Homo sapiens: one gene and its partners. The protein of the gene in region 1 interacts with the protein of each later gene in a pairwise test. Each region holds a gene or a part of one and is shown in the gene's direction. Other genes may lie near its edges.

The links.
Region 2: the proteins of ZNF398 (region 1) and PLEKHF2 interact in binary tests that used the Homo sapiens proteins (3 or more experiments, as listed by UniProt).
Region 3: the proteins of ZNF398 (region 1) and MFAP1 interact in binary tests that used the Homo sapiens proteins (3 or more experiments, as listed by UniProt).
Region 4: the proteins of ZNF398 (region 1) and CABP5 interact in binary tests that used the Homo sapiens proteins (3 or more experiments, as listed by UniProt).

The regions. Positions count from the first base shown.
Region 1 is NC_000007.14:149,142,830-149,150,769, forward strand, and holds the start of ZNF398 (zinc finger protein 398), read left to right. Parts: upstream 1-4,623; 5' UTR 4,624-4,913; coding exon 4,914-4,937; exon of another isoform or gene 4,938-5,451; coding exon of another isoform or gene 5,452-5,454; intron 5,455-5,582; exon of another isoform or gene 5,583-5,687; intron 5,688-7,940. UniProt on the Homo sapiens protein: Functions as a transcriptional activator.
Region 2 is NC_000008.11:95,150,230-95,157,617, forward strand, and holds the end of PLEKHF2 (pleckstrin homology domain-containing family F member 2), read left to right. Parts: intron 1-3,801; 5' UTR 3,802-3,815; coding exon 3,816-4,565; 3' UTR 4,566-6,456; downstream 6,457-7,388. UniProt on the Homo sapiens protein: May play a role in early endosome fusion upstream of RAB5, hence regulating receptor trafficking and fluid-phase transport. Enhances cellular sensitivity to TNF-induced apoptosis.
Region 3 is NC_000015.10:43,813,704-43,821,690, reverse strand, and holds part of MFAP1 (microfibrillar-associated protein 1), read left to right. Parts: intron 1-4,242; coding exon 4,243-4,462; intron 4,463-6,616; coding exon 6,617-6,746; intron 6,747-7,002; coding exon 7,003-7,190; intron 7,191-7,987. UniProt on the Homo sapiens protein: Involved in pre-mRNA splicing as a component of the spliceosome.
Region 4 is NC_000019.10:48,040,292-48,048,990, reverse strand, and holds the start of CABP5 (calcium-binding protein 5), read left to right. Parts: upstream 1-4,911; 5' UTR 4,912-5,068; coding exon 5,069-5,131; intron 5,132-7,387; coding exon 7,388-7,418; intron 7,419-8,242; coding exon 8,243-8,386; intron 8,387-8,699. Other genes in the region: PLA2G4C (cytosolic phospholipase A2 gamma isoform 2 precursor), read left to right, coding at 603-648. UniProt on the Homo sapiens protein: Inhibits calcium-dependent inactivation of L-type calcium channel and shifts voltage dependence of activation to more depolarized membrane potentials. Involved in the transmission of light signals.

The DNA.
Region 1 (7,940 bases):
ATTTGTGGAATGTAAAATCAGTAAACGGAAACGCACGAACGTCGAATTTCCCATGGAAAAATACAGTAAAGGCTATGAGCACAAGCACACTATAGTTTGTTCCCATCTTCAGTTTTACATTCAGAAAACAGGTATAGCTTCATGTATGTTATTTTATTGATCGATGATTGATTAGTATAGTGGCATGATCTCGGCTCCCTGCAAACTCAACCTCCCAGGCTCAGGTGATTCTCCCACATCTAGCTTAATGTATTAATGATGTAATAGACAATTACTGGCCAGGCGCGGTGGCCAGAGCGAGACTCCATCTCAAAAAAGAAAAGAAAAGAAAATTACTGGCGGCAAGCAGGAACATTGTAGATTTTGAAACTGTCTTGTTTTACAAGATACTGAAGCAAGGTGGTGCAATTATTACGTCCTTCTAAAGCTGATCGGATAAAGGCTTTAATTTTGTAATTTTCAGAGAATATTACCAATGTAGCAAGATTTACCAATAACCAATGGTTGCTTGAAGACAAAAGAGTTTGTTGGAACTTGCTGAATAAATTGATGTGCCATCAGTGTATTTTTTACATCATACATGCTGAAAAAAATCTGTCCTTGATTCTGTGCAAAGGAAGATGCTGAAATTGGTGTGCATATGCAGGGAAAGTCAAGATGCAGATGGAAACTGGGATTATTTTGTTAACTCAAAAACCAATTGGCAGGGTGCGGTGGCTCACGCCTGTAATCCCAGCACTCTGGGAGGCCGAGGTGGGCAGATCACCTGAGGTCAGTAGTTCGAGACCAGCCTGGCCAACATGGTGATACCTCGTCTCTACTTAAAATACAAAATTAGCCCCCATGGTGGCGCATGCCTGTAATCCCAGCTACTTGGGAGGCTGAGGCAGGAGAATCACTTGAACCCGGGAGGCAGAGGTTCCAGTGAGCAGAGATTGCGCCATTCCACTCTAGTCTGGGCAACAAGAGTAAAAACTCCATCTCAAAAAACAAACAAACAACCCCCCAAAAAAGCCAATTAAATTGTTTCATAGTCACATTTCTAGATCCAAACTTTTAGGACAATTTTTTTCTCTAGTGATTATGTATAGCAGCAAGAGCAGACAAAAATATTATAAATTAAAAATAAGTTAGTACAACAACCTTACATCTGCTTCTGAAAATATTGTGCATCTTCTTTAAACAGTACACAAAAAGCTTCAGTCAGTGAAATTGCTTAATGAAATGCCAGTACCATCCAAAGAATTTTTAAGGCCAAGAATTAAATAGGAAGAATTTCTTGTCTTAATATATTCCTATTCAAGGAAGGAACATTTAATAAGTTGGTGGTAATATTACCATATTAAAGCAGAGAGGTAGCCTTGCTTTCTATGGAGCTCAGTTGGAAGTCTTATTTAGTAATACAAATGTCCCTGTTAAATGGCCATAGGAGCATCTGACAGAAATTGTTGTTCTTGCCTTATAACATCAAACTTGAAAACTTTACTACTTTTTTTTTGGAGATGGGATGTCAGTCTGTCGCCCAGGCTGGAGTGCAGTGGTATTATTACAGCTCACTGCAGCTTCAACCTCCCTGGCTCAAGTGATCTTACCTCAGCCTCCCGAGTAACTGGGTCGACAGGTGTGCATTACCATTTCAGGCTAATTTTTGTATTTTTTTATGGAGACAGGGTCCCACCAGGTTGCCCTGACTGGCCTTGAATTCTTGGGCTCCAACAATCTACCCACCTCGGCCTCCCACTGTGCTCGGCTACTACATTTTTTTTTTTCTTTTTTGAGATGGAGTTTCACTCTTGTTTCCCAGGCTGGAGTGCAATGGTGCAATCTCCGCTCACTGCAACCTCCTCCTCCTAGGTTCAAGTGATTCTCCTACCTCAGCCTCCTGAGTAGCTAGGATTATAGGCACCCACGACCACGCCCGGCTAGTTTTTCTATTTTTAGTAGAGATGGGGTTTCACCGTGTTGTTCAGGCTGGTCTCCAACTCCTGACCTTAGGCGATCCACCCACCTCGGCCTCCCAAAGTGCTGGGATTATAGGCGTGAGTCACCGTGCCCGGCTTCTCGGCTACTACATTTTAAATAATAAAATTATACAACAGAATTTTCTTTCCAAGAAAATTCAGATTATTATTTTTTTGTAATCTACTCATATTGTGAGTCAGAGAATGGCAATTTTCATTATTAAGCATTCACCATCTGACAAATATGTATATTCAGGTAAATCCCAAATTACGGACTGCATATGTAGCCACAGGCGAAAAGTAACTTAGTCTGCTCAAGAGCAGTTGCCCCAACAGGATAGTTCTCATACTTTTGTGATTTACAGATAGTTATACTGTTATGGGCATTGACTTGATTCATGTGTTGAAATACAGGTTTAGCAGGGTTTGATTCATACATGTTTGAAATGAAGACTTCCTGGAAAACCAGGGTCATGTGCTTATCCTATCACCACACACATGAAACCGCCCCAACAGGGTTCACAAAAATTGCATGCAGGTTCTGGACAGAAATATAGTTATAATTAAGCATTAATCAGGCTGCACTTCGGCCTACTTCCTTGTTGCTAATAGTCACAAGGCACTAGATACTGACATTTGCATCTCTATTGTTCCTATAGATAGGATTTCAGACATCAGACTAAGAATTGATTTGCATCCCTGTTGTTCCTGTAGACAGGATCTCTGACATTAGAATCATAAGGCTTTTGTTTAAGGATCGCTTAAGATGTTTTTCAGACCACGAGTTCCGGTGAAACAGTTGAGTTCAACCAGTTTGAAGACCCCCCACAGAGGAATGGGATGAGCATGAGAATGTAGTTTCTTCATCTCCTTGTACCACGATTTCACCAGCACTCTCCCACCAATCAGTCAACTCCATTACCCTTACAAACTCTAACCCCAAATTCCCAAATTCCTAGCAGAGATGGATGTGAGGCTTCTTCCTGTCTCCTCCTTAGGTGGCCCTATGATTAGACCTCTTTCTCTGCTGCAACCTGGTGTCTCTGCATATAGACTTGCTATGTGCATTGGGCAAGGAACCTACTGCTGTTACACACACTCTGTTGACTTAAAACACAACCTCACCAGAAAACACTTTGTTCTCGCAGGTCCTTTTTTTTTTTTTTTTTTTTTAAGATGGAGTCTAGCTCTGTCGCCCAGGGTGGAGTGCAGTGCTGCCATCTCTGCTCACTGCAACCTCCGCCTCCTGGGTTCCAGCGATTCTCTTGCCTCAGCCTCCGGAGCAGCTGGAATATCAGGTGCACGACACCACGCCCGGCTAATTTTTGTATTTTTTAGTAGAGACGGGGTTTCACCATGTTGGCCAGGCTGGTCTGGAACTCAGGTGATCTGCCCGCCTCGGCCTCCCAAAGTGCTGGAATTACAGGCGTGAGCCACTGCGCTCGGCCTGTTCTCGCAGGTCCTTTTGCTCAGACGCAGCAAACCGTAACCCCAAGCTCGATCTCTGCTGCTCTCAGGAATTCCACTTCCTCCAGCTTGGGCAACATAGCGAGACCCTGTCTCTACAGAAAAATAAATAAGTAAATAAATAAATACAAATAAATAAAACATTAGCCGGGCTTGGTAGCTGCGCCTGTAGTCCAAGATGCTCGGGCAGGCTGAGGGGAAGGATCGTTTGAGCCCAGCAGTTTAAGGCTGCAGTGAGCCTTGTTTGTGCCACTTGCACTCCAGCCTGGACGACAGAGGGAGACTGTCTCTAAATAAATCAATAAATAAGGCCGGGCGCAATGGCTCACGCTTGTAATCCTAGCACTTTGGGAGGCCAAGGCGGGTGGATCATTTGAGGTCAGGAGTTTCAGACCAGCCTGGCCAACATGGTGAAACCCCGTCTCCACTTAAAAAAAAAAAAATTAGCTGGGCATGGTGGTACATGCCTGTAATCCCAGCTACTTGGGAGGCAAAGGCAGGAGAATCGGTTGAACCCGGAAGGCGGTTGCAGTGAGCCGAGATCCCGCCACTGCACTCCAGCCTGGGCGACGGAGTGAGACTCCGTCTCTAAATAAATAAATAAACAAAAATTAAGAATCCTATTTCCAGACCAGGCCCCGGAGAGTCAATAATCCGAGATGTGAAGGAGACCTTAAAATATTATTGATCCCAACACAGGCCGCGTGGGACCTGAACCGCCTCACCTTGGCAACCACATTTGTAATTTCCGCAAATGATCTATATCTTCTTCATTCCAAAATTGTGCCTCTCCGTCACTCATTCCACCCATAGGCTCCCTTCAGCCGTGTCCCCCTTACTCTCACCCTGCACATTTCCGCTGTTCTAAATACGGCTGCCCTTCAGCAGAAGCTGTTGCCTGCAGACGGCGCCTGCGTATCGAGCCTCCGTGAAGAAAATCACTCCCCAGAATGAGCCCGGCTTTGCGGCTGGGTCCTAAACTGCGGTGAGCTGAACCTTCTCGTGGGAATGTGAGAAAGCGGAACACACGTGGGCCCCAAATAACAACCCTCCCCACACCGAAGCCCAAGAGCTGGGGGGGAGGGGCGGAGGCGACGCGGGGGGCGCTGGCCGCAGGGGCCGGCAGGGGGCGCGCTGGCCGCGGTGGCTGGGCAGCGCGAGCCTGCGGCGCGTCTAGGCCCGCGCGGTTCCCGGTGCACTCGCTGCCCACAAAGCGCCAGCTGAGGGGCCGCTGCGGGTGGAGTGCGGCGGAGTCGGCCTCGCGACCCCAGCTTGATCCGCCGCCTGCTGCACCGCGCCTCCGCCGCGTTCCTGCGCGTCCCGAGCCCCGACGGCCGCGTGAGTCCCGTCCGTGCGGGGAAGGCAGGGCCGGGTCGGCGCCGCCTGTGGAGAGGACCCGGCGGCCGGGCCTGCTTGGAGCCGGGCGCGGTGGCAGCGGCGGCAGCGGCGGCGACTTCCGAGGCCCGGGCTAGACAGCGCAGGGCCATGGCTGAGGCGGCCCCGGCCCCGGTAAGGGCGGCCGCGCGCGAGTGTTGTGAGCCCCCGAGACCCAGACCCCGAGGGAGGAAGGCGGGCGGGCAGGGAGCTGCCAGGCATAGGCGCCGTTCTCGGGTCCCGCCGGCCACGTCGCCTGTCGCCCGTGCTTGGCGGCTGCAGCCTCGCGTGAGGGGACTTAGCGGGTGGGTGTGAAACCGCCCACCCGGGGACACCAGGCTGGGCCGCAGGTCTGAGGGGCACTCGCAGGCAGCTATGAGACCCGGGGCCCTGCAGTTGGGTTGAAGTCGAGGGGGTGCCTGCTGCGTGTCAGCCCCACGCCTGCCCGCCAGACGCGCAGCGGGGTTGGGCTGGGGAGCCGTCAGCCATTCTCGCGGCCGCGGGAGCGTTCGTCACCAGCAATCTGAGCGGTGGCGCGGGCGGCATTTAAGTGTGCGGAGGCGCATTCCCGCCGCGCTGCGTGACGCCTGGGCTCCCGGCACCGGACTCGGGACACGCGGGAGGCCCTCCCGAAATAGCTGCCGAATGAATGGTGCGGACCCGGAGGCTGGAGTGGCCTCGCGTGCGTGGCGGTTCATTCGCGGGTGTTTGCCAAGGCCTGCGGGGGCCGGCAGCGGCCAGTTGCCAGGGCGACCGAGGCGACCGGGCCGCGCCTGCACGCAGCCCCGTAGAATGAGAAGGGGACGGTCAGGCCGCGGGGAAAGCACTGATCGCATTTGCCACCCAAGAGGTCTTTGGTCACCTCTAGGAGAGCAATTGTACTGGGTCAGGAGCCACCCTGGCACATGAGGGGTGACTGGGAAAAGGAGGAAGAGCAGCGATGGGTAGGGGGTAGAGCAGAGGGAAGTGCCACCTCCACTCTTGGACCTGTTTTTCTTTTTTCCAACCTTTTTTTTTGTGTATAGGTGGGATGGTAGCGATGATCCTGTGTTGTGCCAGTCCTGGCTAATAGAAATATAAGGGAAGCCGCATACAAAACTCTAAATCAAGCTTGTCCAACCCGCGGCCCCCAGGCCGCATGCGGACTAGGACTGCTTTAAATGCGGCCCAACACAAATTCGTAAACTTTCCTAGAACATCATGAGATTTATGCACGGACCTTTTTCTTTGTCTTTTTTTTTTTTTTTTTTTTTTTTTTTTAGCTCATCAGCTATCATGATCAGTATTTTATGTGTGACCCAAGACAGTTCTTCCAGTGTGGCCCAGGGAAGCCAAAAGATTGGACACCCCTGCTTAAATTCTCTAGGCGTCACGTTTAAAAAGTAAAAAGCCAGGCGCTGTGTTGTGCACGCCTGTAGTCCCAGCTAGGCCGGGGGCTGAGGCGGAAGAATCACTTGAGTCCAGGAGTTCGAGGCAGTCCACACCGCGTCTCTAAAATAAAAAAAATTTTTGAGAAGTTAAAAAATAAATAGATGAAATTAATTTTAATTATATATCTAACTCAATATATGCAAAATATTATTTCAACATGTCATCAATTTATTTATTTATTTATTTTTTGAGGTGGAGTCTCACTCTGTCCCTCAGGCTGGAGTGCAGTGGCGCCATCTGGGCTCACTGCAACTTCTGCCTTGCCGGTTCAAGCGATTCTCCTGCCTCAGCCTCCCGAGTAGCTGGGACTACAGGCGCGTGCCACTACGCCCGGGTCCTTTTGTATTTTTAGTAGAGAGGGGGGTTTCACCGTGTTTGCCGGGATGGTCTCAATCTCCTGACCTCGTGATCCGCCCGCTGGGATCCAAAGTGCTGGGATTACAGGCGTGAGCCACCGCGCCCGGCCTCATGTAATCGATTTAAAACATTAATGGCCGGGTGTGGTGGCTCAAGCCTGTTATCCCAAGCACTTCAGGAGGCTGCCGTGGGAAGACAGCTTTAGCCCAGGAGTTGAAGACCAGCCTGGGCAACATAGGAAGACCCCATCTCTACAAAAAAAATTTTTTTTTTTAAATTAGCCAGGCGTGGTGGCATGCACTTGTACTCCCAGCTACTCAGGAGGTGGGAGGTGTTTGAGCCAGGGAGGTGGAGGCTGCAGTGAGCTGTGATCCTGCCACTGCCCTCCAACCTGGGCAACAAAGTGAAACCCTGTCTCAAGCAAACAAACAAATATTTTTTTCATACTAAGTCTTCAAAGTCTCGTGTATTTTATACTCATAGCACATCTCAATTTAACCACATTTCAGGTGCTCAGTGGCCACATGTAGGTAGTGGCTACTGTATTGAACAGTGCCAGTCCACCCTATGGAGAAGAATCAGGAGACAGATTGACACTAAGAAAGGAACAACCTACCCAAAAAGGTGGAAGGGGTTGGCATAAGTGAAGCAAATGTGGAGAGTTAAGATTTAAATAGGATGCAACTTCCTTAGGAAGTAAAGAAGAAAACTTAGATTCGGTTACTGATAAGTTTGAAGCAAGGAGTATGAAGAGAAAGTTGAATGAATTTAGGTCTGATTAATTTCCATCTCAAAGCAAGAGGACATGTCATCTTCTGAGAGTGGGGGCTGCAGCAGACAAGTCTTACTACTCAGTGTCAGCATCACCTGGGAATTTGTTAAAAATACAAAATCTCAGGCTGTGTACCATGGCTCACACCTGTAATCCCAGCACTTTGGGAGGCTGAGGCAGGTGGATCACTTGAGCTGAGTAGTTTGAGACCAGCCTAGGCAATATGGTGAAACCCTGTCTCTACCAAAAATACAAAAATTAGCAGGGCATGGTGGTGTGTGCCTGTGGTCCCGGCTACTCGGGAGGCTGAGATGGGAGAATCGCTTGAGCCCATGAGATGGAGGTTGCGGTAAGCTGAGATTACACCACTGCACTCCAGCCTGGGTGACAGTGAGACCTCATCCCAAAAAAACAAAAACAAAACCCAACAGAATCTCAGTTTTCCTTACAGACCTACTGAATAAAAATCTGTACTTTGACAAGATCTCCAGGTGATTCTTCCCCGCCTCCCGCGCCCCCCCGCCTCCCCTCCTGCCCTAGACAGAGTCTTGCTCTGTCACCATGCTGGAGTGCAGTGG
Region 2 (7,388 bases), on another chromosome or scaffold:
GGGTTTTTTAGTTCATTGCTTACCATCTTTTTTATGTCTGACACATACAGAAAATATTCAGGACCAAAAAGGATAATGGAAGAGGCTGCTTAAGGCCAAAGGCCTTAGGTTTTGTGCATGCCCATAGTTTTTCAGATATATGTCACAACCCACCAATCAATCAAGTGGGCTGCCAGAATCATTAAAATAAATGAAGATAAAAGAATGCATCATTCATTGTTGAAATAATTATACGAGTGTTTGTAACCTTGCAATATAAAATGTGTTTATGTTGGTCATTGTCAAACTTTGAAAGCTATTTGCTTTGCTGCAGCCAAATACTAATTAATAATGCCCCAAACCTTGCTTAAGTTGCATCATTATTAAACAGGGAGAAAGATTTATGAACAAAGATTTAGACTTAATATATTGAAACATTTGGACAATGAAAGATTATCAAGACACCAGCTGGGTAAATCATGACATATCCATCCTTTCAGGTGATTTGTTCAAGGTAGTATTCCCTTATCTTCAGTATTTTTAGGGTTTGCAATGAAGGTCCAGAGGTTAGTTAATAGCTTCCTTAGAGTTCTTGTAGATTCAGTGGAGTTCTTAGGAACAATTAGTGTACCATAACATACTGTAACATCACAGAGAAATCAGATTTGAGGCTTGTTCTGCTGTGACAGCCTTGGGCAAGTTATTTAACCCCTCTTTGGCTGTTTACTCATCCATAAAATGGAGCTAATAGTGCATGTATCATAAGGTTGCTGTGAGGAGGAAATACAGTAATAAGTGCAAAGTGCTCAGCACATTGGTTGGACTCCCTATGAGTAGAGTTCATTCCAGGTTAAGTTTTGCTTTTACATTATTAAATATCTTTGTGCCTTAATTTCTTCATCAGCTCACAGTTCAGCTAATATTATTAGATGCTTCTTTGGGGGACAATAAAAACTTCTCTAGTAACTTCATAGGCATTTCAAACAGTTCAAATCAGAAAATAATATGAAAAGCACAGTACAAATTTATGATAGTATTAATTCTCATAGTAGCAATAATAGGAAATCTGTTTGTGTTGTATATGAGTTAATAACGATATGTTCAAATGGGTGGACTCAGTAGTTGATTCAGGTGGAGAGAAATAGATCCTTTCAGTTTTTTTTTTAAAGTGCCAATGTCTTTTCCTGTTTTAGGGCCTTTGCAGTTACTCCTTTTGTCTGGAATATTCTCCCCTATCCTTACCCCTTCTTATGTCTGTCCATCTAGTACAGCTGAAATGACAACATTGTAGAAAGGCCTTTCCTGACCATGTAGTCTGAATAGCTCTCAGTTTCTTTTAAAAATCACTTTAAAAAAAAAATCATAGCATTGATTAGTACTAGATTTCAATTTTGTTTTCTCTTTCCTTCTCTCCAACTAGAATGTAAACCCTGAAGAGCAGGGACCTTGCCTGTATTGTTTAATTTATTATTTTTTAAAATTTTTATCTGTTGTCACATACTCAAGTATGATCGCCTGTGGTGTTTATTTTTACTTTTCCTGCACCTAGATCCTAAGTGCCTGACAAATACTTGTGGAATGCTTGAATATAATGTAAAGTATGAAAAAATGATCCATAATTATACTTTCCAGAGATAAATTACCATTGTTGATAGTATAGTATATATTTTTTAACTTTATGTTGTGTGTGTGCTTACAGATACAGATGTCTATGATTATGCTTTTGAAATATGTATTCCATTGAGTCTAAAGATAAACATTTTTTACTATATGTATTTGAAATTGGTCTTATAATCAACGGTATGCTGTGGTTTAATTGGCAACATTTTTCTCTTTATGAGTTGCACATAAATATGTCTTAAAATCTATAGCACCTTAGATGTGATGAAATGTGGTATTTATTTGAAATAAAAATGAGATCAGGAAGTTCATCTCTTTTCCCCACCTAAAGATCTTGAGCATTTCCCTTGTCACTGGTTTTAGATCTGTCTTATTCTCAAGATATATGATTAAGGGTGTGTCATAACTTTTTCAATCAGTTCCTCTTGATGGCTATTTGGAGCTTTTCCAATTGTTTTCCTGTTATAAACAATGCTGTGCTGATTATCCTTGTATATATCTCTATGCACGTGAGTGAAATTTATTTAATTAGATTGGTGAATACACATATTCTCTGTAGTGTACAAGGGTACCTATTTCCCTATACCTTTATGAGTACTGAATCTTAGTAAATTTAAAAATTTTTATTAATCTAAGTGAAAAATATACTAATGTTTAATATAATTTCTTTAATTATGATAGAGATTGAAACCTCTTTTCCTGTTTATTAGCCGTTTTTATTTCCTTTTCTGTGATGTACTTGTGCATAGGATAGTAGGCTTTTAATTGGCTGGCATATTAGTCCTAATTAGAAACCTTTCCAGTTTGGAACCATGCATTATCCTATTAATTCTTGGGAACAACTTTTAGGCCTGCTACATCCTACTTTTGTGGAGGACAAGAGGGCTTTATAAGGACCCAAGATTTGCAGGGAGACAGAATTCAGAAATAACCAGAATTCTAGTGTCCTTTATAATGAAGGCCAAGAAGGGCTATAGTGTCAGTTTTTGAGCTGAATACTGGAACTTACATACTATGCTGTTAGTCTTTAAACTTTAAATGGTCTTCTTCTCAAGGCTTGTTGTTCTTTAATATGACTTGGTTATAGTATAGTAGTATTAGTTTAGTAGGTTTGAAATAGGATACAACTCTGGGACTTGAGTGAAGTCAATATTGGACTTAGAGATTAAATGTTTAGATTAATAGGGTGTTTTGCACATTGTTAAAATGTTATTAACATTTTTTAGTACCTTTTCTGTGTCAAACCGTATCAGTTTCAAACAAAACTATCAGATGATCTCTGCTTTTTAGGTTCTGCATGGTCTCTGGAGGAACAGATTTCAGTCCTTTGGTAAAAGTGAAGCTAGAATATACATGGAATATGGATAGCTCACAGGAAGGGTTTTAGTCTAGCATGGGAGTTTAAAGGAGGCTTCCTGGAGGAGACACGATTACCTAAACTAAGTCTCGAAGGATGAATATGAGTTAGCTGCAGTAGTAAGTAGTAAAAGGAACAACAGTGAAATGGACTACAAGTAGTAGAGTGTTCTTAGAATATGACATTTGAGGTGAAGACTGACTTATGGTGAGGTTGGAGTGACAAGAACCAAGTAATGAAAGGCCGTGAACACCCTGTATTTAATAGGTTAAGGGATCATTTTGAGCAATGATGGGGTCAAATTAGGGTTTTAGAGATCACTGCCCAAAGATTGATTTGGGGGCAAGATTGAAGGCCAGGACACATGTTGGGAAACAGTTCTAGTAATCCAGGTGAGAGAATTAAGGCTGTAGCTCAGTGGTAATAGCTTACTTGGAAAATTGTAGTCATTTTTCTTAGTTTATGTAACATTTTGTTCCCTATTGTTCAGAATCCCATTGAGATTACATTTCATTGAATGGGGTTTATTATTTTGCAGAGATAAGTTATGTTAATTATCCAATCGTCTTTCATTCAATTATGTCTGTAGGAAGTTTATACTTTTACAAATACCTGCTTAACTAGTATGGTGCTACGTGGAGATGATAAATAAGTGTTTTTCATCATTTTAAAAATTGAGAAATGTTAGCCCTTTTGATGTGCTTAGTGATTATCTTAGAGGGAAAGAATTTTAGAACATTTTGCCTTTGTGTAAAAGCAATGATTTGTTAGCTTAATTTATATATAATTAACTTATAGGAATTTATAATTTATATGTGCTAATTTCTTTTTCTTTTTTTTAAAAGGCTATTAGTGAAAGATGGTGGATCGCTTGGCAAACAGTGAAGCAAATACTAGACGTATAAGTATAGTGGAAAACTGTTTTGGAGCAGCTGGTCAACCTTTAACTATACCTGGACGAGTTCTTATTGGAGAAGGAGTATTGACTAAGTTGTGCAGGAAAAAGCCCAAAGCAAGGCAGTTTTTCTTGTTTAATGATATTCTTGTATATGGCAATATTGTCATCCAGAAGAAAAAATATAACAAACAACATATTATTCCCCTGGAAAATGTCACTATTGATTCCATCAAAGATGAGGGAGACTTAAGGAATGGATGGCTAATCAAGACACCAACTAAATCTTTTGCAGTTTATGCTGCCACTGCTACGGAGAAATCAGAATGGATGAATCATATAAATAAATGTGTTACTGATTTACTCTCCAAAAGTGGGAAGACACCCAGTAATGAACATGCTGCTGTCTGGGTTCCTGACTCTGAGGCAACTGTATGTATGCGTTGTCAGAAAGCAAAATTCACACCTGTTAATCGTCGCCACCATTGCCGCAAATGTGGTTTTGTTGTCTGTGGGCCCTGCTCTGAAAAGAGATTTCTTCTTCCCAGCCAGTCCTCTAAGCCTGTGCGGATTTGTGACTTCTGCTATGACCTGCTTTCTGCTGGGGACATGGCCACATGCCAGCCTGCTAGATCAGACTCTTACAGCCAGTCATTGAAGTCTCCTTTAAATGATATGTCTGATGATGATGACGATGATGATAGCAGTGACTAAGGACACATTTGGGAGTATTTAATCAGGTGTGGCTATCTGAGAAATCAACTTTGGGGGAAATGTAAGATTCTGAGCTCTCTCTCTGTTTTGTTCTAGCCATGAATTTGCCTGAGAAACTTGTAACCTATGTGCCTCAATATATTCCATAGAAAGTAGGTCCCCCTGCCTTCTCCCACTCCTCACACTCTTCTACAGGGATAGGCTTTTGCAAATATATCAGATAAATTTTTTGTTTCTTGTTTATTTTTAGGTTATTTTCTTGGAAGGTTGGGAAAAGATGTTTGTTTTAACAGGTCATGTACTACGTTGTTGTTTTCATTTCTGTTATAAGTAAAACTAAAAGCACAGAATGGTGGGAAAGGGGCTATAATGTGGTTCATTAATAATGTTAGCAGCTTTTTTCTAACCATCCTGTCTAATGGTTAAGACACCAGTAACAAAAACACATGATTTGGAAATACTTTGGCTTTTTCATATACCTAGTGGTGCCTTATCATAATAGCACTGTTACATGAAATAAGCCCCTACCTTCTTACTTTCTGGTTTGTTGAAAAAATACACTGGTGCTCTTTGAAGTGATAAAATGAGTGTTTATGAATGGGTGTAATTAGGAAATACTTCTCATCTGACAGCTACAAATAACTAAGTTTGGAGGTATTTTCACTCTATATGAATAAATATTTTTCCATAAAATAGTTGTGATTATATTTTTGTTTTATATAGGTCCCAAATTATAATTGTCAAATATATATTTTAAATTAATAAAAGTTGTCATTCTTAGGAATTTGGTTTGAAATTTATCAGTTATACAGAATTGTCATACTGCATTAGCTTCTACCTTTAGTAAGACATATTTTTTAGGTATAAATTCTTATGCTTTAACATTATTTCTGGATTGAAAATCTTATAAAACCCTTGAAAATAAACAGTCTCTTTTTTACAAAGCCTGTGTTAGAGCACAGATTTACCTAGGCTTGAAGATTTGGAAGAAATAATATGTAAGAATGGCCTCAAGGCAGACCACTTTAAGTTTGGCTAGACTTCATATCGTGGAAGTATTGTCTATTTCAGTGTGAAACTATCTTGAATTTGCAAATATAGTGTTATATTTTATAAAGTTTTGTAAAATCCCAAACAATATTTCTATTTTTGTAAAACAATTGTATGTATAATCTGTATTTGAAATCATTTTGCAATCTATGGAAATAGAGTAGCAATTGCTATTTCTAAATTGTGAACTTTAAGTCAATCTAGATTTATTTTGAGAAGTAATTGTTCACTCTTTACTTTTGAGGCAGCCATTAGGTTGAAAGTATATATTTATCATATAAAACTTGATGCGTTTTGCACTACTCTTTCCATTTATATGCTGCAAACAACTACAGTCTTTGAAATATGGAAAATCAGCAGTCTAAAGTTTGTTTTAAATTCTAAATTTAAAAAATCTTCAAATCTGAATATACCGCAAATGTCATGAGAAGTTTGATTCAGTAACTTGTGATGGAGGATTCTTTGGTATCTTACTGTTTGGTTAAGGCACTAATTTTACTTACCTATTAGATTTTGAAAGTATCTGAGATATACAAATCTCCCTGTAGGAAATGTGAAAGAAAAGCACAACAAAACTAGGGTTTTTTGTTCATTTGCTTGCTTTTATGATTTTTTTTGGTTTGTTTTAATATCAGGTGGATTTTTGTTTCTAAGCAATATATACATAAAATCAACCAACATATCTGAAAAGGATCATGAAACCTGAGAAATGCTAATGGAGATTTGCTGGTACATAGGAATCTAGCAAATTCAGGAACCAAGGGGAAATGTTGTGAGATAACATTTACATTGTCAACCTTTATTGACTTTGTTTTTACAATAAAAAATATTTTACAACTTACTTTCTGTTCTCTGTATATTGTGACTTGAGGATTTACCCCCTCTGCTAAGATAATAAAGATATTATGCATATTTTGCCTAATAATTCAACAACTGTGAGTGCCTGCTATGTGCCAGGCATTGTTCTAGGCAGTAGGTTAGAGCAGTGAACAAAACTCCCTTTTGGATTTACCGCACGAAGGCTCAGAAAACATTCTTCCAAGTGTTGAAGATATGGCTTAATGTTACTGGGAAGTGCCTTAATATAATTTGGCTTTGCTGTCCAATTACTGTTAGAAGGAATGACTTGACCTGAATTGACATGTCTCAGAAGGAAACATACACATGGCTGACAGGTATATGAAGAAATGTCCAAGATCACTAATCATCAGGGAAATGCAAATTAAAACCACAATGAGATAATGGTAATACCTGATACCTGTTGAATGACTTATCAAAAAGATGAAAGAAGTGTTGGCAAGGATATGCAGAAAAGGAGACCCTTGCACACTGTTGGGAATGTAAAGTAGCACAGCCATTATGGAAAACAGTAGAGGTTCCTCAAAAAGTGAAAATAGAACTACCTATAGCATCTAGCAATCCCACTACTAAGTATATATTAATATCTGAAGAAAATGAGTATGTTGAAGAGATAATCTGTACTCCCATGTTCATTGCAGCAGCATTCACAGTAGCCAAGATATGGAATCAACCTAAGTGTCTATCAACAAATGAATGGATAAAGAAAAGGTGGTCTGTATACACAGTGGAATATTAGCCATAAAAAATTAAATCCTGTTACTTGTGACAACATGGATGGAACTGATGGACATTAAGTGAAATATGCCAGGCACAGAAAGACAAATACTTCATGATCTTGCTTATATGGTGTGGAATCTAAAAAAGTTGAGCTTATAGAACCAGGAGTAGAATGATGATTACCAGGGGCTGGTT
Region 3 (7,987 bases), on another chromosome or scaffold:
CGTCTTTAATCCATCTGGAATTTTTGTGTCTGTGGTGGAAGTTAGAGGTCTAATTTTACTATATGGTTGGCCAATTGTCCCTTCTCACCCCATCCATTTTCTACTGATTTTTAATGCCATCCCTATAATATACTCGAGTTCTCATATAAGTTTGTTTTTCTTTTCTCTGTTACATTGATCTCTGTGTACTTCCTGGGTCACTGACATATCTGGTAAACTATGCCCCACCCCTCCTTCCCCGCCCCCATCAGCTTTATTCTTCTTCAGCATTGTCTTGGCATTTTGGGGCCTCCTGTTCTTCCATATGATTTTGGAATAAGCCTGGAGACAACTTTTAATGGAATTGCATTAAAATGATAGATTATACATTTATAGGTTAATTCAGGTGCAGTTGCCATCTTCTCATCCTTGAACATGAAATATTTCTCTATTTACATCTTTTTTATCTTTCAATAAAATTACATATTTTTCCTCCTAAAAGCCTTGTACATTGTTTGTTGGATTTATTCCACAGTATCTTATAGATTACTTGTGACCGTTAATGGTATTTTAAAACTATATTTTCTTCAGCCTGGGCAACATAGCGAGACCCCAAAAAATACAGTGCTCTACAAAAAAACAAAATTACCTGGGTGGTACCTGTCTGTAGTCCCAGCTACTGAGAGGCTGAAGAGGGAGGCTCACTTTAGCCCAGGAGGTTGAGACTGCAGTGAGCTGTGATCATGCCACTGCACACCAGCCTGGGTAACAGAATGAGACCCTTTCTCAAACAGTAGAAAATAAGCCAGGCATGGTGGCTCACGCCTGTAATCCCAGCACTTTGGGAGGCCCTAGGCAAGAGGATCACTTGAGTCCAGGAGTTCAAGACCAGCATGGGCAGCATAGTGAGACCTCGTCTGTACAAAAAAATTTTAAAAATTAGACCGGCATGGTGTTGCACGCCTGTAGTCCCAGCTACTTGGGAGGCTGAGGCAGGAGAATGGTTTGAGCCTAGGAGGCTGACGCTGCGGTGAGCCATGATTGCGCCACCGCACTCCACCCTAGGCAACAGAGTGAGACCCTGTCTCAAGAAAATAAATAAAAATAAAATTGTACTTTCTAATTATATGTAGCTAATGTACAGGTATGCTTATTTTTATAAATAAGTTTTTTATCTAGCATTTTTTCTGAACTCTTTTATCTATTTGTTATCTTGTGTTTTCTACAAAGACAACCATATAATCTGCAAATTATGGCAGTTTCTTCCTTTTAAATCCTTATAACTTTTCCTTATTGCCCAAATTAGAACCATAATACAGTGTTGACTAGAAGGTGTGATAGGTACAACATTAGGATGCTCACTGGTTTTTTTTGTTGTTGTTGTTTGTTTTTTTTGAGATGGAGTCTTACCCTGTCGCCTAGGCTGGAGTGCAGTGGCGCGATCTCGGCTCACTGCAAGCTCCGCCCCTGGGTTCACACCATTCTCCTGCCTCAGCCTCTTGAGTAGCTGGGACTACAGGTGCGTGCCACCACACCCGGCTAATTTTTTGGTTTTTTGTTTTTTTGAGACGGAGTCTCGCTCTCTTGCCCAAGCTGGAGTGCAGTGGTGCTATCTCGCTCACTGCAAGCTCTGTGTCCCGGGTTCACGCCATTCTCCTGCCTCAGCCTCCCAAGTAGCTGGGACTACAGGCACTCGCCACCATGCCTGGCTAATTTTTTTGTCTTTTTAGTGGAGATGGGGTTTCACTGTGTTAGCCAGGATGTTCTCAATTTCCTGACGTTGTGATCCGTCCGCCTTGGCCTCCCAGAGTGCTGGGATTACAGGCGTGAGCCACCACACCCAGCTGGATGCCCACTGATTTTTAAAGAGAATGCTTCTGGCCAGTCACAGTGGCTCACACCTGAAATCCCAGCACTTTATGATACTGAGGCTGGCAGATCACCTGAGGTCAGGAGTTCAAGACCAGCCTGGCCTACATGTTGAAACCCTGTCTTTACTAAAAAATACACAAATTAGCCAGGCATGGTGGTGGGCACCTGTAATCCCAGCTACTCAGGAGCCTGAGGCAGGGAGAATTGCTTGAACCCAGGGGGCGGAGGTTGCAGTGAGCGGAGATCATGCCACTGCACTGCAGCCTGGGCAACAGAGCGAGACTCCATCTCAAAAAAAATAAATAAATAAATAAATAGAATGTTTCTATTGTTTTATCATTAAGTATAAAGTCTGCTGTATCTATTATTTTTTAAAAATGTGACTTTAAAAAATAGTAGGCTAGGAGAGATGGCTCACACCTGTAATCCTAGCACTTTGGGAGACTGAGGCTGGAGGATCACTTGAGGCCAGGAGTCCAAGGCCAGCTTGGGCAACATAGCAAGACCCTTTCTCTACCTTTTAAAAAATAACAAACAAAAATAAAATTTTAAAAAGTAAAAATAGTATATTGCTTCCCTCCCATTGTTCATCTATCTATCTATGTACATTTTTTTTTGGAATTTTGTTTTGTTTTGTTTTGTTTTTAAAGACAGAGTCTTACTGTGTTGCCCAGGCTGGAGTGCAGTAGCACGATCTCAGCTCACTGCAACCTCCACCTTCCAGGTTCAAGTTATTCTCCTGCCTCAGCCACCTGAGTAGCTTGGATTAAAAAGTCTGTGCCACCATGTCTGGCTAATTTTTGTATTTTTAGTAGAGACGGAGTTTTGCCATGTTGGGCAGGCTGGTCTCGAACTCCTAGCCTCAACTGATCTGCCCACCTTGGCTTTCCAAAGTGCTGGGATTACAAGCATGAGCCACTGTGCCCAGCTATATATATTTTTGTGTTTGACACAGGGTCTCACTCTATCACTCAGGCTAAAGTGAGTGCCTTGGTGTGGTCATGGCTTGCCGCAGCCTCAACCTCCTGGGCTCCAGTGATTCTCCCACCTCAGCCTCCCATGTAGCTTGGGACCACAGGCATATACCACTATGTCCGGGTAATTTTTTTTGTTTTTAGTAGAGATGAGGTCTAAACCCAGGCTGGTCTCGAACTCCTGGGTTTAAGCAATCCTCCTGCCTCAACCTTCCAAAATGCTGCGATTATAGGCATGAGCCACTGCACCTGGCCCCCTCATTAATTTTCTAAGGTCAAACTATCCTTCTAGTCTTGGGCTAAATTCTAATAAGTTGTGTTGGTCTAGGGGTTTTTTTTTTTTGTTTCTTTTTTTTTTTTTGGTAGTTTTTATATTGCTGGGATAAATTTGCTCTTACGTTATTTAGTATTTTTGTATTTGTGTTTGTAAGTGAAATCCACCTAAAGTTTTCCTTTGAACTGTCCAATTTGGTTATCAAGGTTATACTCATAAAATAAGTTGGTTAGTTTTCACTGTCTTTGTTCACTAGAATTGTTTGTATTTGTAGGCTGGGTGCTGTGGCTCACGCCTGTAATCCCAGCACTTTGGGAGGCTGAGGTGGGCGGATCATGAGGTCAGGAGATCGAGACCATCATGGCTAATACGGTGAAACCCCATCTCTACTAAAAATACAAAAAATTAGCTGGGCATGGTGGCATGCGTCTGTAGTCCCAGCTACTCAGGAAGCTGAGGCAGAAGAATCACTTGAACCCGGGAGGCGGAGGTTGCAGTGAGCCGAGACCACGCCACTGCACTCCAGCCTGGGCGACAGAGCGAGACTCCGTCTCAAAAAAAAAAAAAAAAAAAGAATTGTATTTGTAAGAGATTACATACTCTTGCATGTTTGATAACACATAAGGTAAAGGAAAAGAAGGTAGAAATAGGTAAGATTAGAATATTGAGTCATGTGGCAGTATGTTATAAAGGCTGCCATGGAAATTCCAGAGGGAACTACAAGAATGCCTGAGCAGTTTTATGTTCCTGCAGAAATTACCCTTACTATGTGCTGGGCACTGTTACAAATAATTTGTTTAAGGGTATAGTTGAGGTGGGATACCATGAATTTGTGATGGATGCAGTCTGCCTTTTTGGGGGGGGACTTTTTTCTACTGTTTCACTGCCTACCTTCCTCTACTTCATTGTACTCAAGGTAAGCCTCATTATCATCAGTGTTGGCTTTCACAAGGATGCAGTCTCATGACTTGGCCTTTGTAGGAAAACACCATTAGAAGAGTAGATGGTTGGGTAGTGGCTCTCTTCTTCTTCTGCTTAGACTCTTGTCTACTATGAATAAAGGGCTCTATTTGCAAAGGCCGTGATGGGTTGAAGCACATTGAGAAAGAGGCTACTGAAACATAAGTTACCTTTCTCGCCCAGGTGAGATTTCAATGGAAAAAGTGAAGGTAAAGCGTTATGTGTCCGGAAAAAGGCCAGACTATGCCCCTATGGAGTCCTCAGATGAGGAGGATGAAGAATTTCAGTTCATTAAGAAAGCCAAAGAACAAGAAGCAGAGCCTGAGGAACAGGAGGAGGATTCATCCAGTGACCCCCGGCTACGGCGTTTACAGAACCGTATTAGTGAAGATGTGGAAGAGAGGTAATGTCTGTGATTGTGTTTACTTGAACATGAACCTCTACAGCTTAATAATAATAATAATAGCTAATACTTGAATAGTACTACCAAGTAGATTACATTTGCTAATTCTTGTAATCCATACAATAACTTTATGAAATAGGTGCTATTATCCCCATTTCACAAAAGGAGGAAACTAAGAGCACAAAGGGGCTAAGAAAGTTACATGACCAAAGCTACAAAGTGGCAGCTTCAGGAAACAGCAGGTTACTTCTGGCCTAAAGGACCTACTCAACTCCTTATGGGAATAGAAAACACAGACCATTTGTTGGCTGTTGAGAGGAGTCTTTTTAGCACAAAGATGTTTTATAAACTTTGGTAAATTGATTTTATACATCTACTTATTCTAAATGCTAATAAGGGGAAATGACACTGAAGTAGGAGAAAAGACCTTATAAAGGTCTCATGGTAGAAAGAGAGCCTCCCAGTGAGGGATTTTGTATGTTATATATTGATGGAGACATTACTTTATAGAGTAGGCCAGGAGTCCTGAACTTTCACCGTTCATAATTGTCCCAGGAGTTTTTTCACAGAGCTCCTGGGCCAAAACAGTTCTGTTTATTTTAGTTATTAAGTAGTTAGAGCCAAGTAACTTAATAAGTATTTATGTCCTAATAACTTTGCCACTTGAAGATTAACAGTGCCCATGGCCAGGTGCGGTGGCTCACGCCTGTAATCCTAGCACTTTGGGAGGCTGAGGCGGGTGGATCACGAGGTCAGGAGTTCAAGACCAGCCTGGCCAACTTGGTAAAACCCCATCTCTACTAAAAATACAAAAAAATTAGCCAGGCCTGGTGGCGGGCACCTGTAATCCCAGCTACTTGGGAGGCTGAGGCAGAGAATTGCTTGAACCTGGCAGGCAGAGATTGCAGTGAGCCGAGATCACGCCACTGCACTCCAGCCTGGGTGACAAAGCGAGACTCCATCTCAAAAAAAAAAAAAGAAAAGAAAAAAGAAAAAAAAATAAAATTACAGTGCCCAGGGGGGAAAAAACACTTTTATTCATTCTCACATAACCATAGTTACTAGTGGAATTTGTTTGCCTGTTGGACACTGACAGCCTTTCAAACCTTGGAATCAGCACTGTCACTTTTTCATGTCTTGTTTTATATTGATTTTCATACTATACTTTCTTTTACTTTTTATCACAGCAGCCACCAAAACCCAGTTTCACAAAGACACGATATTCTCGAAAGGAATGTAGTGTGACTTAATGTTGAAAGTGAATTATCTTGAGCTATTAAAAATATTCCAATGCAGGCCAGGCTCAGTGACTCATGCCTGTAATCCCAGCACTTTGGGAGGCCTAGGCAGGCGGATCACCTGAGGTCAGGAGTTCAAGACTAGCCTGGCCAATATGGCGAAACTCCATCTCTACTAAAAATAAAAAAATTAGCTGGGTGTGGTGGTGCATGCCTGTAATCCCAGCTACTCGGGAGGCTGAGGCAGGGATTATCACTTGAACCTGGGAGGTGGAGGTTGTGGTGAGCCAAGATCATGCCCTTGCACTTCAGCCTGGGTGACAGAGTGAGATTCTGTCTCAAAAAAAAAAAAATCCCAATGCATCCCTATGAGTTTGCTGGCTTGCTGTGGTGCCCCAGGATGCCTCAACATACATTTAGTATTTCAGGCCCAACTTGACTATTCGCTCTGACATCCTAGTTTAGTTTCTTTAATCTGCACCTCAGTTTCCTCCACCTCAATACTTTAATACTGGATGGACATGGTGGCTCACACCTATAATCCCAGCACTTTGAGAGGCTGAGGTGGGCAGATTGCCTAAGTCCAGGAGTTCAAGACCAGCCTGGGCAACATGGTAAAACCCCGTCTCTACAAAAAATACAAATATTAGCCAGGTGTGGTGGCACGCCTATAGTCCCAGCTACTCAGGAGGCTGAGGTGGGAGGATCACTTGAGTCTGGGAGGCAGAGGTGGCAGTGAGCCAAGATCGCACCACTGCACTGCAGCCTGGGCGACAGAGCAAGACCCTGCCTCAAAAAAAAAAAAACTTCAGTATTAATGAAGGCAAACATAATGTGCTCTGTGGCTATGGAAATGCAGTTGATGCTACTTCATTTTTATGACATTGGTGTTACATTTGGAGATACTGTTTTTCAGATTGGCTCGACATCGAAAAATAGTGGAACCTGAAGTGGTAGGAGAGAGTGACTCAGAAGTAGAAGGAGATGCTTGGCGCATGGAACGAGAAGACAGCAGTGAAGAAGAGGAGGAGGAAATTGATGATGAGGTATGATAAAGGAACATGGGAAGTTTTTTTCTGGATATAAGAAAAAGTTCATGCCAGTGCTCATTTGTTGAAGCCTTAAAAACATGAGATCACTGCTTTGGCAGGACTCTGATCATGTTCCTTGTTTGTGGGGATAGGATTAAAAATAGAATGATACTAAGTTGTATCTTTTTACATTTGAATTTGTTGTGTTTGATGAGACGAACAAAAAGCCATAGGCCATTTGACTGACTGGCTTATATATATGACTTGATAGGAAATAGAGCGGCGGCGTGGCATGATGCGTCAGCGAGCACAGGAGAGAAAAAATGAAGAGATGGAAGTCATGGAAGTGGAAGATGAGGGTCGTTCTGGAGAGGAGTCAGAATCAGAGTCTGAGTATGAAGAGTACACAGACAGTGAAGATGAGATGGAGCCTCGCCTTAAGCCAGTCTTCATTCGAAAGTAAGTATCTCACAAGCCAGATCTGAATCCACTTAATTACCACTTTCCAGGCCTGGAGACAAAAGTCTGTTTTCTGTCTTGCTATTCTGAAATCTAAACGCTGAGTGAAAGTGCTTTTGCTAGTGCTCTACCCTTGGCAGACTAGCTGCTGAGGAATATCTTGGCGTTAGCAGAGAACCTGAGTTTGTTTTCACATCTCTTTTTTCAGTAATAGAGCATATATCTGTCCAAGGCCTTTTTTTGTTTGTTTGAGACAGAGTTTCGCTCTTGTTGCCCAGGCTGGAGTGCAATGGCATGATCTCGGCTCACCACAACCTCCACCTCCTGGTTTCAAGCAGTTCTGCCTCTGTCTCCCGAGTAGCTGGGATTACAGGCATGCGCCACCACGCCTGGCTAATTTTGTATTTTTAGTAGAGAGGGGGTTTTTCCATGTTGGTCAGGCTGGTCTCGAACTCCCAACCTCAGGTGATCCGTCCTCCTCAGCCTCCCAAAGTGCTAGGATTACAGGCATGAGCCACGGCACCAAGCCAAGGCCATATATTTTTAAGCACAAAATTAAACTCAACGAGCAAATTCCTATTCCTTTCCTGATGGCTAGAAATCCTACTGCTTAGAGGCCAGCAGGTTCTTTGCTGTCTAGGCAGTTCTCAAAGATGAACATGATTTTAGTCCTCTAAAGACCTGGGATGATGGCTGGGCACGGTGGCTCACGACTGTAATCCCAGCACTTTGGGAGGCTGAGGTAGGTGGATCAGGAGGTCAGGAGTTCAAGACCAGCCTAGCCAAGATGGTGAAAC
Region 4 (8,699 bases), on another chromosome or scaffold:
CAGTTTCCTTTTAACAACCAGATCTCAAGTGAACTAATAGAGCAAGAACTCACTCATTACCGCAGGGAAGGCACCAACCCATTCATGAAGGATCCACTCCCATGATCCAAACATCTCCCTCTGGGCCCCACCTCCAACACTGGGGATCACATTTCAACATGAGATTTGGAGGGGACGAATTTCCAAACTATATCAGTCTATTCGAGGAACAGAAGGAAAGCTGTTATTGCTGGATCAGGGTAGGGGAAGCACGGAATGAAATGTGATTGGAGAGATGGACAGAGATCAGATCTTGTGAATTCTGGCAGGTATCATGACATTCGATGTAGGCCAAAGAGTTACCTCCTAGCCCAGCTCCTGATACATGCTTAATAAGCGTAGTGTTGGATAAATAAACGTTTACGTGGTAAAAGTAGATCACAAGAGCTCCACAGGAGGAGGTGGTGGAGCTCCAGGTCTTCTCAATGAATGAAAGAATGGATGAATGTCTTTCTCCTAAGTCATGTATGACCTGTAGAGGCTTCCAGGTCTTCTAATCTTATCCAGTGTGCAACACTGCCTACAAAGCACAGTGGTAACTTCTAACTTTCCTTTCTCCCCAGGCTCTACTACCCGAAGGATAGTGCCCGAAGTTGCTGCTTGGCATAGATGAGCCTCAGCTTCCAGGGCACTGTGGGCCTGTTGGTCTACTAGGGCCCTGATGTCCACCTGGCCTTCCTGTTCTTCACTCCCTTCAGCCACACGCTTCATGGCCTTGAGTTCACCTTGGCTGTCCTAACAGGGCCAATCACCAGTGACCAGCTAGACTGTGATTTTGATAGCGTCATTCAGAAGAAGGCGTCCAAGGAGCTGAAGGTGGTGAAATTTGTCCTGCAGGTCCCTCGGGAGATCCTGGAGCTGGAGCATGAGTGTCTGACAATCAGAAGCATCATGTCCAATGTCCAGATGGCCAGAATGAATGTGATAGTTCAGACCAATGCCTTCCACTGCTCCTTTATGACTGCACTTCTAGCCAGTAGCTCTGCACAAGTTAGCTCTGTAGAAGTAAGAACTTGGGCTTAAATCATGGGCTATCTCTCCACAGCCAAGTGGAGCTCTGAGAATACAACAAGTGCTCAATAAATGCTTGCTGATTGACTGATGGATTAGCTGTGTGTGTGTGTCTTGGTCTGCCACCACCCCTGCTGCGGCCCTTTTCACCCTCTGTGTACCCTTTACTTGTTCCTTTCTTCCCTTCCCCCTTTCCTTTCCATCTTCTTCCATCTATATCTCAGCAATTAAGCATGGTGGTTCCACAGCTGGGTTTGGATCTTACTTCTGTTATCTGCTTACCATGAGAACATGGGCAAGAGCCTTCGCCTCCATGCCCCAGTTCCATCGTCTGTAGAATAGACCATCACGGAGCCTGTATCCTAGAAAGGCTTAAATGAGTTCATGAGTCTCAAGACCTTAGAATAGTTAGTCTGGCACCGACGGAGTTCCAGAGCAATTATTATTCATACAGGCTTTCCAGAATTAAAGCAGGACTGTTATGGGATGAATTGTGTGTCCCACCCCCACCAAAAGATGTGGCCATTGTAACCCCCAGTGCCTGTGAATGTGACCTTGCATGGAAATAAGGTCTTTACCAATGTCATCAAGTGAAGATGAGGTCACTCGTGTGGACCCTAATCCACAATGACTAGTGTCCTTATGAAAAGGAGAGATTTCGCCGGGCGCAGTGGCTCACGCCTGTACTCCCAGCACTTTGGGAGGCCGAGGCAGGTGGATCACAAAGTCAAGAGATTGATACCATCCTGACCAACATGGTGAAACCTCATCTCTACTAAAAATACAAAAATTAGCTGGGCATGGTGGCACACACCTATAGTCCCAGCTACTCGGGAGGCTGAGGCAGGAGAACCGCTTGAACCCAGGAGGTGGAGCTTGCAGTGAGCCAAATCATGCCACTGCACTCCAGCCTGGTGACAGAGTGAAGACTCTGTCTCAAAAAAAAAAAAAAAAAAAAAAAAAAAAGGAAAGAAAAGGGGGGATTTAGGGGAGGGAGAGCATTATGACAAATACCTAATGCATGCAGGGCTTAATACCTAGGTGACGGGTTGATTGGTGCAGCAAACCAGCATGGCACATGTATACCTATGTAATAAACCTGCATGTTCAGCACATGTATCCCAGATTTGAAATAAAATTCTTTTAAAAAAGGGGGGGGGATTTAAAGACAGAGACAGGCATGTATACAGAGAGGAAACCATGTGAACATGGAAGCAGGGATTGGGGTGAGGCTCTACTGACCAAGGGCCGCCAAACTATTGCCAGCAAACCACCAGTCATCCGAAAGAAGACCTTGATAGCAGAAGGATCCTGTTCAGAATTCTGTGTTGCATTCAGTCGTAGCTTTTTTTTTTTTTTTTTTTTTTTTTTGGACAGAGTTTTGCTCTTGTTGCCCAGGCTGGAGTGCAATGGCACGATCTTGGGCTCACTGCAACCTCCGCCTCCTGGGTTTAAGCGATTCTGCTGCCTCAGCCTCCCGAGTAGCAGGGATTACAGGCATGTGCCACCATGCCGGGCTAATTTTTTTGTATTTTTAGTAGAGACGGGGTTTCTCCACGTTGGTTAGGCTGGTCTCGAACTCCTGACCTCAGGTGATCTGCCCACCTCAGCCTCCCAAATTGCTGGGATTACAGGTGTGAGCCATCGCGCCCAGCCTCGGCCATGTCTTCTTAGTCTCCTCCAATCTCGAACGGTTCCTCAATCTTTCCTTGATTTTCATGACCTTGACATTTTTGAAGCTTACAGGCCAGTTATTTTGTAAACCATCCCTCCATGTGGGTTCGTCTGACGTCTGATTATGATGAGATTCAGGAATCTTACAGAAGCGATGCTGTTCTCGTGACATCCTGTCAGGTGGTGTGAAATTCCAACTTGTCACATTACTGATGATGTCCACTTTCATTGACTAAGATGGTGTTTGCCACGTTTCTCCACTATAACGTAACTCCTTTGAAATTGGTATTTTGTAGGGAGGTATTTTGAGCTCTGTAAATATCAAACTTCTCACTTAGCTTTTTATTTATCTGAGTATGGACTCCTGGTTTCTTCTGTGGTCCTGTATAATTTGTTACTATCATTATTTATTTTGACTCTCAAACTGCCCAGTATGGCCAATGGAGCTTCTTCAAGCAGACTCCTGTGTTCTTTCCACATGTTCTCACAACACTTTGAGCAATTTCTTGCTTTAAGCATAGGACGTTTGTAGGCTCATCTTGTTCTTTTTTTGCTCTAGACATGGAATCAGCCAAATTTCCTAGGCACTCTGGTTCCATTTGGTGGAGAATGGTATATAGAAGTCAAGATTTGGATGCTAGTGGTGCTCATTCATATGGGCCATCATTGTTTCTATGTTCTCTTAGTGGAGAGAGCTAGAGAATATGTGTACAAATGTTCCTATACACACTGAAACTATGTGTTTATTTTTATCTCTCTATGTATAATTGAGATCCATGAGGACATACCAACGCCTCCAGTTATAGTCCAACACCACAGGGCTCATTCGACTTTCCTCCTTTCTGTCTTAGTAACTCCCTTTTCCAACAGTAGGAGACCTGGCCCCCATTCCCCTTACTCACTGTGTGTAGCCAATTTCCCTTTTCCTTTGCCATTTCACCCCTGTGGGGATGTCTTTCCCAGCCTAGTCTGGCTTCAACACCATACACCATGCTATTCCCATGAGTGGACATTTCTCTCTCTGCTTGGGTTATGACAACCCATGCCAGATCCCCTCTATGTGGCCTCCTTCCTAATTGCCTTACAGTGCAAACCTCCACCCCAGACAATGCCTGCATATAAATGCCCCCGCCCCACTCAGCTCATGTTCCAACACTGCACACCAAGCTGCCCATCTGTGGATTTATCCCCACCATCTCCAGCCCCAACACCCTGGGTCATGCTGCCCCTCTATGTGGACTTCTCCTCACCCCACTACCCCACTGGAATGCTGGCTCTCCACGCCAGATGGCCCCCAGCCCCCTCCTCCCCTAACCCTACCTAGTGTGGAGTCGCAAAACCCCTTTGGGCTTTGACACCACCATAACTTCACACCCTCCCTGACACCCCCACCTTGCTTTTTCCCTCTAAATCATTCAGGAAAGACAGAAGGAAAGAGATGAACAGAGGAAGAGCAAATGCCATGCTCTTAGTCACCGTGTACGCCCACTTCCTGAAGTCCATGCTTGCATCCTGCTCACTCTCACACATTCCCGACTCACCCAGGAAAACTCCCTGAGGCCAGGGGTGCTGAGCTCTCCATCTCACTGCCCAGAGGCCAGTGTTGGAGTGACCCTTCACATGCTTGTTGGAACATTGAATAAATGATGCCGTCTGCTCTAATCCTCCATTTTCTTTTCTTTTTTTTCTTTTTTTTTCTTTTTTTCGAGACAGGGTCTCACTATGTCAGCCAGGCTGGAGTACAATGGTGCAATCGTAGTTCACTGCAGCCTGGAGTGCAATGGTACAATCATAGCTCACTGCAGCCTTGAACTCCTGGGCTCAAGCAATCCTCCCATCTCTGCCTTTGGAGCAGCTGGGACTACAGGTGTGTGCCACCATGCACGGCTAATTTTTTTATTTTTTGTAAAGACAGCCTCTCCGTATGTTGCTCAGCTGGTCTCAAACTCCTGGGCTCAAGCAATCCTCCCACCTCAGCCTCCCAAAGCGCTGGGACTACAGACATGAGCACCACATCCAGCCTCTAATCCCCATTTATAAAATGCACTTTCCAATTCCACTCTGGGGATAAAGGCGTCACAGAACCTGACTCTGCATTTCCCCACCCATATCATTCAAGCCAGATGGGGAGGCAGGGACAGCTCTGGTCCCTCCCCAACCCGGGTAGAGATTTCCAGCCCAGCTGTCACAGCTCTAAGACACCGGGACCGAAGGAGAAGCCAAGAGAGGCAGGAAGAGGTGGCAAAGGAGTGCTGGAGAAGATAAGGAGGCTGAGCTCCGACAGGGAGCAGGGAGGAGGGGCCATCTTGAGACTGGTGCCCTGCGAGCTCCACCCCACCCCTCCATGCAGTTCCCCATGGGCCCCGCCTGCATCTTCTTGAGGAAAGGCATTGCTGAGAAACAGCGGGTGAGGTGGGGAGTGAGGGGGAAGGGCGGTGGGCGGGGCAAAGGGAGCAGGGGTGTGGGACAAAGAAGGGGACATGATGGTGCCACAGAACCAGGGGAACAGGTGGATAGAGCAGGAGCTGAGAAGGTATAAGAAATTCCAAGGACCCTGGTGGGGTCATGTAAGCCAGTGAGATAAATGGGTGGGGGTAAAATCAAAAGTCAGGAGCAAAGAGAAGGAGAGAAAAGGAAGAAAAATGAAAAGGGAAAGTGGGATGATGTCATTGTTGAGATTACCATCATTCTTTTCTATGGATGCTCATTGTGATAATGGTGGTGATGATGGTGGTGGTGGTGATGATAATGATGACGTTAATAACAATAGCTGCCACTTATTAAGTCATTGTTCTGTGCCCAGCCCTGTGCAAAGGGATTTGCACACCTGATGTTATTTACACCTCAGAACAACTCATGAGGTCAGTGACTTTCATTCCCATTTTACAGGTGAGGAAAGTGAAGCTCTGAGTCATGAAGTCATTTGCCTTAAGCTTACACAGTTAGTAAGTGGCAGGGTCGGCCAAGTATAGTGGCTCATGCCTGAATCGCAGCATCTTGGGAGGCAGAGGCGGGAGGATCACTTATGTCCAGGAGTTTGAGACCAGCCTGGGAAACACAAGACCCCATCTCTACTAAAAATACAAAAAAATAGCTCAGCATGGTGGCATGCATCTGCAGTCCCAGCTACTCAGGTGGCTGAGGCAGGAGGATCGCTTGAGCCCAGGAAGTGGAGGCTGCAGTGAGCCCTGATTATGCCACTGCACTCCAGCCTGGGCAACAAAGTGAGACTTTGTCTCGTTAAAAAAAAGTAAGTGGCAGGGTCGGGTTTGCTTGATTCCTGTGGGCATGCTTTTTAAAATTTTTTTATTTTTCCATATATACCAACTTGTCCAGATATGTGGGCATACTTTTCATTGTTAGGCTTTAAGATCACCAAAAAAAGAGAATAAAAAAGGCCAGGCAGTGGCTCACGCCTGTGATCCCAGCCCTTTGGGAGGCCAAAGCAGGTGGATCACGAGGTCAGGAGGTCAAGACCAGCCTGGCCAAGATGGTGAAACCCTGTCTCTATTAGAAATACAAAAATTAGCCGGGTGCAGTGGCAGGCGCCTGTAATCCCAGCTACTCGGGAGGCTGAGGCAGGAGAATCGCTTGAACCCGGGAGGCAGAGGTTGCAGTGAGCCGAGTTCGTGCCACTGCACTCCAGCTTGGGTGACAGAGCGAGACTGTGTCTCAAAAAAAAAAAAGAGAGAGAGAATGAAAAAAAGGGTGATAAGGGACCGCAAGGAGGGGATCAGATGAAAGAGAAGCTGAGGGAAAGGCTCCAGGGATAAAGGGAGATGGGAAGGCTAAAGAGACCAGAGGTCAGTAGAATTTCCTTGTTAACATGCCATGTATATGTAAGCCCAACCCTTCAGGTATGTGCAGGAGTAGGTGGGGCAGCAATAACTGGACATTCTCAGAGTGTTTAGGAACTGGTCATGCTGGCACTGACCCTCCTGCCTGAAAGCCATTGAATGCTGTTTCCATGCACAGAGATTCTAACCTTTGGCAGGAAGATTGGAGGCAGGTGAGAAAGGAGTGAATGGGGGCTAGTGTGAAGAATTCTGACTTGGGAGTCAGGAGCCCTGAATTCAAATCCCAATACTGTGTCTGACTTGCCCCATGACCTCCAGGGAGCAGGTGAATGCCTTCCTCCCTTGGGAGGGGATCTGCTGCTTGTGAGCTGTGTGACCTTGTGCAGGTTCCTTAACCTCTCTGTTCCTCAGCTTTCTCATGGGTAAGATGGAAACGAGATGTAGATCTGCATCACAGAGCAGTACTGAGGTTTAAATGAAATGATTGTGGAAACTGCCTGGCACAGAGTCACCACTCTGAATGAGTTAGCTGTGGTTGTGAAGTCTCACTTTTTTCATCTGGAGATTGGACTCCCCAGTGTTTAAGACCCCCTTTGACACAATGTGATGGGTGTTTGTCTCAGAAAGGGAGAAAAAGGGAGATTGGGATTCGTGGGTGGGAGAGAGACATCGAGAGGGGGGTGGGGAGCCAAGAACTGTGGAACAGGAGTCAGGAGATGGGAAAAGGAATGGGAGGGATGGAGGAGGAGAGAGAGAATGGAAAGAGAACCACGAGAGCGTGGGGAGGAGCTTGGGAGAACAAGGAGACCCTTTGGAGAATGGGTGACCCTCTCTCCAAATTCCCTCTCATCTGCATTCCTTTCCAGGAAAGACCACTGGGACAAGATGAGATTGAAGGTAACACCGTCTTCCCCAGTTGCTTCCACGTTGCCATCCACCCACCTGACCTGCCCTCAGTCCCTTTGTGCATTTCCGTATAAATTCCATTACATGGAATTTTTACAATCCCTCTCTCTTCCCACTCAACTGTAATTTTGTAGAACTCTTTCTCGTGGCAGTTGAAGGACTTCCCAAAGTATTTCGAAGGCATATCCATCCTCAAGTATCTCCAAGACTCAGGAGTGAAAACAAATGAGTTTCTCTCTTGGTGACTTTGAGGTTCCCCATAACTTCATCCAGGAATCTGAAGGACGCCAGTGCTCTCATTTAGTGGTCTCAGGAATGATGCCTCTTTTGCTAACACATTTCATACATCACTCCTTTTTGAATTTTTTTTTCTTTTTTGAGACAGAGTTTTGCTCTTGTTGCCAGGCTGGAGTGCAATGGCACGATCTCCTCTCACTGCTACCTCCGCCTCCCAGGTTCAAGCGATTCTTCTGCCTTGGCTGAGGCAGCCTCCCTAGTAGCTGGGATCAAAGGCATGAGCCACCATGCCCAGCTAATTTTTTTGTATTTAGTAGAGATGGGGTTCTGCCATGTTGGTCAGTCTGGCCTCAAACTCCTCACCTCAGGTGATCCACCCACCTCGACCTCCCAAAGTGCTGGGATTACAGCCATGAGCCACCACATCCGGCCTTGGTTTTTTTGTTTTGTTTTGTTTTGTTTCTAATGTACGCTCCTTTAAGGAGTCTCTAGTTGGAGCCTCATTGATAGCTTCAAGAGATGCCACTCTTCCCCACTGACTGCTTCAAGTTCCCCCAAAGTTCTCTCTTAACTTTCAGAGCTGCGGGAAGCATTTCTTGAGTTCGATAAGGACCGAGATGGGTTCATCTCTTGTAAGGATCTGGGGAATCTCATGAGGACGATGGGTTACATGCCCACGGAGATGGAACTGATTGAGCTCGGCCAGCAAATCCGCATGAACCGTGAGTCCAGGGAATGGGAGGGATGGCCGGGGTTAGGGAAGGGATCAGGGCAGAATTGGGAAGGATGTAGAGGTTAAGAGTAGAGTTGGGGGTGGAGAGGAGGATGAGAGGGACTAGAAGTCTGGAAGAAAACAGGTCAGATTCGACTCAGGAAGGCAGCATTTGAAGTGGTTAAAAGCTTTTAGAGATAGGTCTGGGTTCAAATCTCAGTTCTATTATTTACTAATTACAGTCATTTTGAAAAGTGAAGTTATCCGCTACTCTTCAGTTTCCATTTCCTCATCTATAGAGGAAGATGCCTCTCTCCTTACCT